Regions from separate parts of the Homo sapiens genome. Here region 2 is linked to region 1. Evidence: fine-mapped expression QTL. A gene starts in region 1. The other region holds a variant in brackets. All regions are shown on one strand. Distances are between the middles of the regions.

Region 1 (4,000 bases):
AAATTATGTTGCATGAGATAAGCATTGAAGGCACACACGTTCATACAAATTAAATCTGTAATTATGCCTCAATAAGTTAAAATGTAAAGACATATCAAATTGTAAGACCAAAATGGCTTTTGACCTTACAACAAACTCATATAAAAATAGATTTTTCCATAATAATAAAGGGGAGAGAGAGATTTTGCAGGATATTGAGTCAGTAGGGAGGGGTCTCATTTAATATCATGTCGCCTTTTATATGCAGTTAGAAAATCAACGTTCCCAATTACATATTACTTTGCTTTAAAAGATTACTAGGAGGATTAATAAACACTCAGAAATATGCCTTTCTTTGCTTCTGGCCAAGAACATTCCTGCGTGCTTGTCGGAAAATGTTCTTTGGTTGCTACTGACATTAAGGAGTAAGTGCAGGATAACTAGAGGACCCTAAAATAAGATCCAAGAAGCCCTAACACACCGCCAATCGAGGCTTATCAAAGCTCCCCCAGCGCGAGGAAAACTTGCATAGAAGCCAAACAAGAACGAGGAGTCAAAATCCACCGACGACGAGTCGCACGCCCCACCGAGCTGGAGTCAGCAGCACCATTCAACAAGTCCCTCCTACCAGCTCTCTAAGGGATCCCGCAAAACCTTCCTTTACCACTTCCCCACCCCCAGCCTCCCGCCCCCAGTAGCTGCTCTTGGCAGCATGGCCGGCAGAGGGCACCCTCTACCTTCCCTAGCTTCGTTCTCTGGGTCCCCTCCTCCTCCTCGCCTCCCCTCCACCCCGGTCCCTCATCCCCGCTCTACCCCCAACACACAAACACTGCATCCTCCAGTTCACCCTCGCAGCCCCGAGGCTTCTTCCTTAGGGATGCCCCTAGTCTGTAATCTCCCCTTCTTCTTGCCCGTCAGGCACAGAGCCCCCAATCCTCAGCTATTTCTTTCCAGGAGTAACTCACTCACCCATTCCTCTTCCCGGCTCTGCATCCCCAGAGACTAACCCGAGTCAAGAATCCCCCACGTACATCCCAACCACTCCCCGAAAGTCAAAACTCTTAACTTCCCTGGAGGGCGCTTCAGAAGAGGGGCGCAGGATGGGTAGAGATGTGGGTTCGGCCTGCCCGAGAGTGTCGCAGACCCTTTCAGTTCCCAGCGGTAGGAATTCCGCCTCCCAAGTTTTCCAAGCTACATTGGCTTCGGACTTGTAAGTCCACTTCAGTCTCAATTCCTGGGGAGCAGGTAGCCGTGTGCAGCTCCGGGGAAGGGATGCGGGCTGAAGGCGCAAGCTTCCCTCCCACTCCCCCCGCAAGTCGGCGCGGGGACCACCCACCCCCTGGAAGGATTCCTAGCCTAGCCCCAGCACCCTCCCCTCAGTCAGGACCCTCGACAGCTCTGGCCCCCTAAGTCTCTCTCGACTACTCCTGGGCTGGGGGAGGGCTGCGAGGGATCCCCGGGTCGCCGTCTTTGCTCCCATCACGCAGCTCTGGGTCTCCTCCAGGCCTTCCCTCCTCTACTTCGTGACTTCCCCGGGTCCCTTTTTCCCTGGTGGTGCCGGCTGACCTTCTGGGTTGTGGGATGGGGGAGAAAACTCCCCAAGAGTAACTCCAAATCGTCCCTTCTACCGGAGGGGAGGAAAGAAGGAGACTGGCCTCGTCCCACAACTTTGGGGTGGGGGATCCCCCAGTCAACTCTCTCCCGCGGACGGGCAGCTCCTGCACCAAGCCCCATTCCCAGCGCTTGCCTACCTCGGGGTCCACACAAACCTCACGGGTCCCCGGCGGCGGAGTCACATCGTGGTTCCGATTCTGGCTCCAGCGCCCAGCCCCGGTCCCCGTCGCGGTGCTGCTCCCCGCCGGCCCCACAGCAGCGGTGGGTGTCTCATTAAAGCCCCCCGAGCAGGAGGTGGAGGGGCGCACCGGGCTGGCTCCTCTGTCCGGCCCGGGAGCCCGAGGCGCTACGGGGTGCGCGGGACAGCGAGCGGGCGGGTGCGCCCGGGCGCGGCGGCGGCAGCGTCGGGGACCCGGAGCTCCAGGCTGCGCCTTGCGCCCGGGTCAGACATTATTTAGCTCTTCGGTTGAGCTTCGATTGGTCAAACGGCGCCGCCCCCCCCCCCCCGCCCCCCGCCCCCCGCTCCCCGCTCGCCCGCGCTACCGATACCCGTTCGAGGCGGCCGCTTAAAGGGAACGCCGCGTCTTTTCCTCGCGCGGGGAACCGAGGGGCGCCCGGAACTCCCCGCTCCCCCGGGGCCTGTCCTCACCTCCTCCCCTAGGGCCCCGCGACATCGCCCTGCGAGTCCTGCGCCCTCCTGGGGCGCCTTGGACAGGACGCCCGCGGCTTCGAGGGGTGTTCCAGCCCCAGCCTCAGCCCCGGGGAACCCCGCGTCCCGCGCCCTCTGCAGAAACCCCGGCTGTGGGCGCTGGGGCGGGAGGGAGCGAGTGAGAATCGCACGCCCCGAGGTCTCGCTCCCCTAGCTTTCAACTCTCCCCTTCCTCCCCATCCCAGCACCCAAGTTCTCTGGGAGAGGGCGTGCGTTTCCCGGGCCACAGACACACCTTCCCGCACCTTCCTGCACTACGGAGCTTGCGAACGCGAGCACACAATGAAATCGCACAGAGCATGGGGGCTATTGGTTTACTCTGCTGCCTTAAACACGCCGGCTTAAACAGAGTTCGCGCACTGACCTCTCTAGAGTTTGCCTAATAGGAATTCAATCAAGATAATAACAGCATTTTTTATTGATGAACGCCCCCAGATAACGTTACACCAAGTTACTTGTTCCAGCCAGGAAGCCCAGGCAATGACAGACCTCGCTAAAGCCACACGCTTTCTAGCCGACCAAACAGAAAAACGGAAAGAGAAAGAAAGAAAACAAACCCACCTTTTCAGTCACTACTTGTCAAAGTAACCATCAAGGCAGCTGCTCCGGGAAAGACTTCGGCCCCAAAACTCCCACACTCTATTATTTTTTCACGTTCCCTTCGCTTAATTAAAGGGGGGAGGGGGCGCGAGTCTTTGGTGCCCGGTATGTACTCCTTCTGTTCTGCAGCAAAGAAGTTAAATTATTGATAGTGGAAATTGCATGGCGGAGGTAATACTCGCACCCCATCAGCGAGAAGCTCCATTTGATCTCGGCAGAGGCAGGGAGATTTCATGCTAGTTCGCCGGGGGGAGCGGCAGCGAGAGCAGCCCTCTCCGCGGTGAATGGGAAAGTGGGTGGGAGTCCACGAGAGGGCTCCACGGTGCCTTGACGTGCGCTGTCATATGATACCTCCGCTGCCTCGAAATAGACACTCTAGTGCACGAATTACCAGAATCAAAATTCAGCGCATTTAAAATGATACATCTTTTATTAGAAGAGTTCCGTTCCAGGGCATTGCATGCTTTTGCAGATGTTTTCACTTCCAGCCCCAGCAAACACACGTATAAGCTAACCCTTTTAATAACGAACCAGGGCAGCCAAGATAAATAAAAAGTCTTCTGCTTTAACCAGAGTGGGGGTAGGTGATTCGAGGGTGGGGGCAGAACTGGCTCAGTTAATCCTCCCCCGCCCTCCACCCCCACCACTGCCCGCAGCAAAAGAGCAAATAGCCTTTCGGGTTCTCATTTGCCTGTAGCCAAGACCCTTGAAGAGAACTTATATGGCTAGGGTCCAGAGGACATTTTCAATTATCCATTTGATGAACTCTGTCAACCGTCTACCTGTGTTTCTGCTTTAAAGCTGAATTTTCTTCTCATTAGTTCAACCAATTTGTGCAGACCTTAAAATTTAGAATAAAGAATAAGACAGCAGTACCGTACTTAACTTGGAGTCCCTGGACCTCCTCGGAGCATAAAAATCACCTGGGTGAGTGTTAAAATGAAGGTCCCTCCTCCTGAAATTGTGATTTAGTAGGGGTGGGGCAGGGCCCAGGAGTTATAATTTTAATAAATACCACAAGCAATTCGAATGCAGACAATCTGAAGTCACACTTTGAGAAACACTCTCTTGGGGGTACAACACTGGGTATCAGAGGAA
Region 2 (4,522 bases), 45 kb before region 1:
TATCCCAATTAACAGTCTTTATTTAACAATGGCTTATCAAAATATGCAGCCATTTCTACTTTAACTTGTAGACCAGGCTTGATGTTAGAACATGATGGAGACAAGTATGTTTTACAATAACCTTAAACCTTAACACTATTGGGAGTGCTGGCTGAACTGAGGCAATGCCTGAAGCCATTTGTTGCAGTTCAAAAAGTGTTTGACATTTTATCCAGATCTAGAAGTCACTTAAATGAATGAGGAACAATTTAACACTGACCCATTCTAAGACTTAGTTCAGATTCTCATTTCGAACTGTCTTATTATTCACTGAATTAGTACAGCTCATAAAAAGATTTCATAGACACAGCTAATGACCACAGAGGCTTATCAGTATGGTGAAAAACAACAGATCAAAGCAATGATCTGAGTTATTTCCTGGCATCTTAGTAATTAAACAAGTTTAACTGCTTACTCAATGAATGCAGTACACATTGGTTACTCCTATTAACTCCAAGTAGGATAATTTAGTAGATGTCTCTATTTTGTTTTTTTCTCCAACCTCATCTTCTAATGAAAACTTTCAGTCATGTTTACCAAACTCGTTTAACTTCAAGTAATTTGGATGTCATGTTTAATTTTTACTTTTTTTACTCAACCATTTAAAAAATATTTTAGTCCTCTGACTATGAAAATTGGTCAAGCCTGAAGTTTATCAAAGTTCTAAGTCCATGGCTGGGCTGTCATGACTGGCAGTCAAGGGCTTCTCTTAGAGTACTTTTCAAGTTCACTGGACAGATTAGGATAGAGTAATTCATCTCATTCGATCTGTTTTTCCATATACACAACACAAGTCAATGTTTGTTATGACTTTCCTGATCCTTATTTATAAGACAATACAAGAGGAAACCATGTGTGTATGTTTAGAAATAGAAATGATACATTGCACAGATATAGTTCACCACGTTATGGGATGGGTTGTCAGTGTTCAAATGGGGAGGCTGAAGAGTAAGAACAGATGCTTTTTTTCCTTAATGGCCCCTTCTCTGATTTAAAATCCTTCCATTTATTTCCCTAAGATTTAGTGATAACTTTAAACACTTTAACTAAATTACCCAGCGGCTTGGCAGCCATCACGGAGGCAAATCCTTTTAGAAATCCTAGCAATCTGTTAGATTGTGGGTACTATGATATAAAATCTGTGTGCTCCACGTACAAAAATTAAATCAGTGCTATGGATACAAATACATACTGCAAATGGCACCACTTCCAAACCGAGGATATGTGACCTGTCTCCAAATATTGAATTTCTTTTTTTACTTTTTTCCCCAGTACTTGACTTTCTAAATTTGGGCCAATTTATTCTCATTATCCCTAAGTAAACCTACTTTGATTTTTTTTAACAGTTATTTTATAGTCAAATAGAGCCAGCCAGCCAGCCGTGATTCGTGGATCCTGATGTTGCTAGGATACATGGTTTGGTATCTGATGAAAGTATATCACTTCAAAGGGGTAAAACTTTCAAGTGTCCGAGAAAATGACACTCCCATCTTCCACCATGGAAGACAGATCCAATCCTACAACTTCTCAGAAGCTCACAGACTGCAGGATTGGCCTCCCAGGCTTTCAAATAAGTATCCTCTCTGGAGGGCTGTTTAATTACTAAAACTAGTCAGATTAGTCTTAAAGCAAGGAACACACGTATTTATAATAAAACACGTTTTCATGTTTGTTTTACAGTAAAGAGAAAAAAACCCAGAACCCCCAGATTTTATGTACTTTGAAAATATATTTAAAAACATTAAAAATTCTATATTTAAAACATATATTATATGTTAATTAGTACACTTAAATAGAACTTGTATTTACAATAGGCTTCTGATGCGGTTAAGTTTTAATGCCAATTTTTTTCAATAACATAATTATATAAATATACTAAAATACAATAAATATTGTTTTTTGTTTTACATGGTGAATAATATCTTTACCATAGAGAGAACAAGGCCACAGACATTTACTTACATTTTCAATGGGAATCGCCATAAAAAAGCAACAGGCCTGCTGCCATGCATGAAACACTTCTGCCACAAAGAGACCACAGCAAGACTTTAAAAAACAAAACAAAACAGAACAAGAACGAACACAACAGAGAGAGATTTTAACAAAATAAATCTTAGGTCAACATAAACCATCAAGCATGTGACTGTGATGTATCTTATTGGGTAAAAGAGCCACTGACCACACAATTGCTGGATGTGTCTCCTATGAAACCACTTAACAGATCTGGCCCTTGCAATCCTTTAAGTTTGTGATGGGGGGTTGTTTGTTTTAAATTTGTCCCTCAAAAGGAAGCTGCATAAAGTTGACATA[C/T]AGCAGATATTCCAAGCATTCCTTACATATTAAAAATAATTACAAAGATAATATTTTCAAACAACACAAAACAAATCTACACTACGTAAAGTCTTCCTTCTTTCAAAGAGGTATTCAGATGGTACTGTGAAAGACTAGCTCTAAATGAAAGACTGAACAAATTGAAATTCTTTGCTGATGGTATCTTCATTCCTGGGTTATGGTGAACATCCTCTTTTGCTTATCCCTCACCCTACTAAGATGCAGCAATTGCTTGGGGCTTTCTGATACTTAAGGATGCTGGTCCAAGTGGTGATCACTAACATTTTCAGGTGTGAAATGGGCTGAATGGGCTTAGAGCTCTAGTTTTCACTGGGGATCCATTTTTCCAAGAACCACTATTTCAGGCTCCCAACTTGACTTCTCCTAACCCAAAATGGCAGAGGTGAGGCAGGGACCCTCTCCATGAACAGACAGGATGGGCAGAAGGTTGCTGTGGCCTTCACTGGGGAGCAAAATTTTGTCAGCTCTGTCCTGGCCTCTTCCATTGAGCAAGGCACCTTCAAGTCTTGGTGTTCTGAATGTCCAGACACCTTCCCGAAGTCTTGTCTCTGGACAAGATTTCCTATGGGTCCCCTTGATCATTCGGCCTGAGTTTGGGGTTTCTTTTCCTGTTCCCTTTTCCCTTACCAAAAGTTCTCAAAAGATAAACCCTGGTTTCCTCAAGTCTAGTTTCAAAGCAATAAGTGTTCAGGTAGCAAACATCTTCTATCTCATTGCATCAATCTCATGATCACAAATGCCACATTTGGCTCCCAACCTGCTCCAGGCTAATCCAATTTTATGCAAAATTATCCAGAGGTGGGATGGTGGGCATAAGTCGGCTTGAGTGTGGTCCTCCAGTCGAGAACCTCTTGAGCACAGTTAGATAATGTAGGCACTTAAAGCACGAGGTCCAAGCAGCTTGACACATGTCATTCCAGAGCCACCTCTGAAGGGTCCTTCAGAGGCCTTCGTTTTGGAATGTCTCAAATACCATGCCCCACCTCCACCTAGACCTTGGGATGGCCACTCAGAAATTCCTCCCGCACTGCCGGTAAATGCAATGCCAACTCCACATAGCCTCCATTTGGCTGTTCAGTCTCATGTCACTGGCAATGTGGATTCCTGTTCTGATCTAGGTGTTTCTGGGTTGATACAGGGCTCTACCTTTTGCTTACAAGACATTGTTAAGCCTCACCATGAGTTTTTTTTAAGCTTAGCCATGATTTACCCAAATGTTCACTCCTCATAAAAAATAATCTTCATTTTGGGGTTATTTTTTGTTGTTTTCTGTTCTAAAAAAAAATCACTGTTCTCCATGCTTATACGAGTGTCATGATGTGACACAATGTGTTCACTTGTTCACAGCAGTGGTAAAATATTTCAGAACGCGCAACTGATTTTTCTTCCTTAAAACAAAACAAAGAGGAGACCAGAGGGGGAGGGGGGGAAAGAATGTGTTCTGAGCAAACATAGGTCCTTCCGTCAAAAGCAGCTTACTCTGACCAACGCCCAAAGAATGAGCGGGGCCTGGGAGGTGCATCACGGGATGTGGAGTGTGAGCATTTTTTTGTTCAGTTGCCTTAATTTTTATTCACTTTCTAGTCATCTGATCGATATTGCAAACATCTTCACAACATACAAATGTATCTTTTATCAGCCAGAATATATATTGTAGGAATTCTTTCCCCATCTCTACTCCCTGTGGGAACTAAAAAACAAAACAAACAAACGAAAAAAAAACACAAAACAAACAAAAATATACCCCCCATCCCCCATCCCCTAAGCCAGTAAAGCAATGACAACAGCACCTTGACATTGTTTTAATTCCAACGCTATCAGAAGTTAAAAGCAGTAAAACAGATATAGTACTAACAAGAACGAAGATACTTACTGTCTAAAATGTAAACGGAATGTTTTGGTTCAAATTTTTGTTGTGTGTGTGTGTGTTTTTTTTCTGTTTTCTGAAAGAGGACAGTTTATTATCAATTCACAATTAAAGCAGCATGCAATTTATTATTTTTTTTAACTTTTTATGTTTTCAGTTCTTGGCAACGGCAACAAACCACAACATTATCAAGGAATGTAATGCAGACTTTTTAAGTTGTGCGCAAATGACTGTTTCCCTTCTGGTCATGGACATGTCCAATAA

Direction of the effects. Alleles are on the strand shown, and positions count from the first base shown. SD is a standard deviation of normalised expression in the study named.
For the expression in left ventricle of the gene that starts at base 2,022 in region 1, C is the high allele of the variant in region 2 and T is the other (small effect, 0.23 SD a copy in GTEx).

The links. PIP is the estimated chance that this variant, and not a neighbour inherited with it, causes the effect. A credible set is the group of variants that fine-mapping cannot tell apart.
Region 2: its variant is the best candidate, but not a certain one, in a credible set for the expression of BDNF in left ventricle (GTEx, PIP 0.55).

The regions. Positions count from the first base shown.
Region 1 is chr11:27,698,434-27,702,433 of GRCh38, forward strand. BDNF (brain derived neurotrophic factor) reads right to left here and starts at 2,022. Exons shown (of 2, transcript NM_001709.5): 1 at 1,731-2,022.
Region 2 is chr11:27,653,145-27,657,666 of GRCh38, forward strand. It overlaps BDNF (brain derived neurotrophic factor), which reads right to left. Exons shown (of 2, transcript NM_001709.5): 2 at 1,749-4,522. All of the region lies in intron 3 of BDNF-AS (BDNF antisense RNA), which reads left to right. Among named protein-coding and RNA genes, the nearest start is that of LINC00678, 21 kb to the left of the region's middle. The variant C/T (reference allele first, on the strand shown) is at 2,350.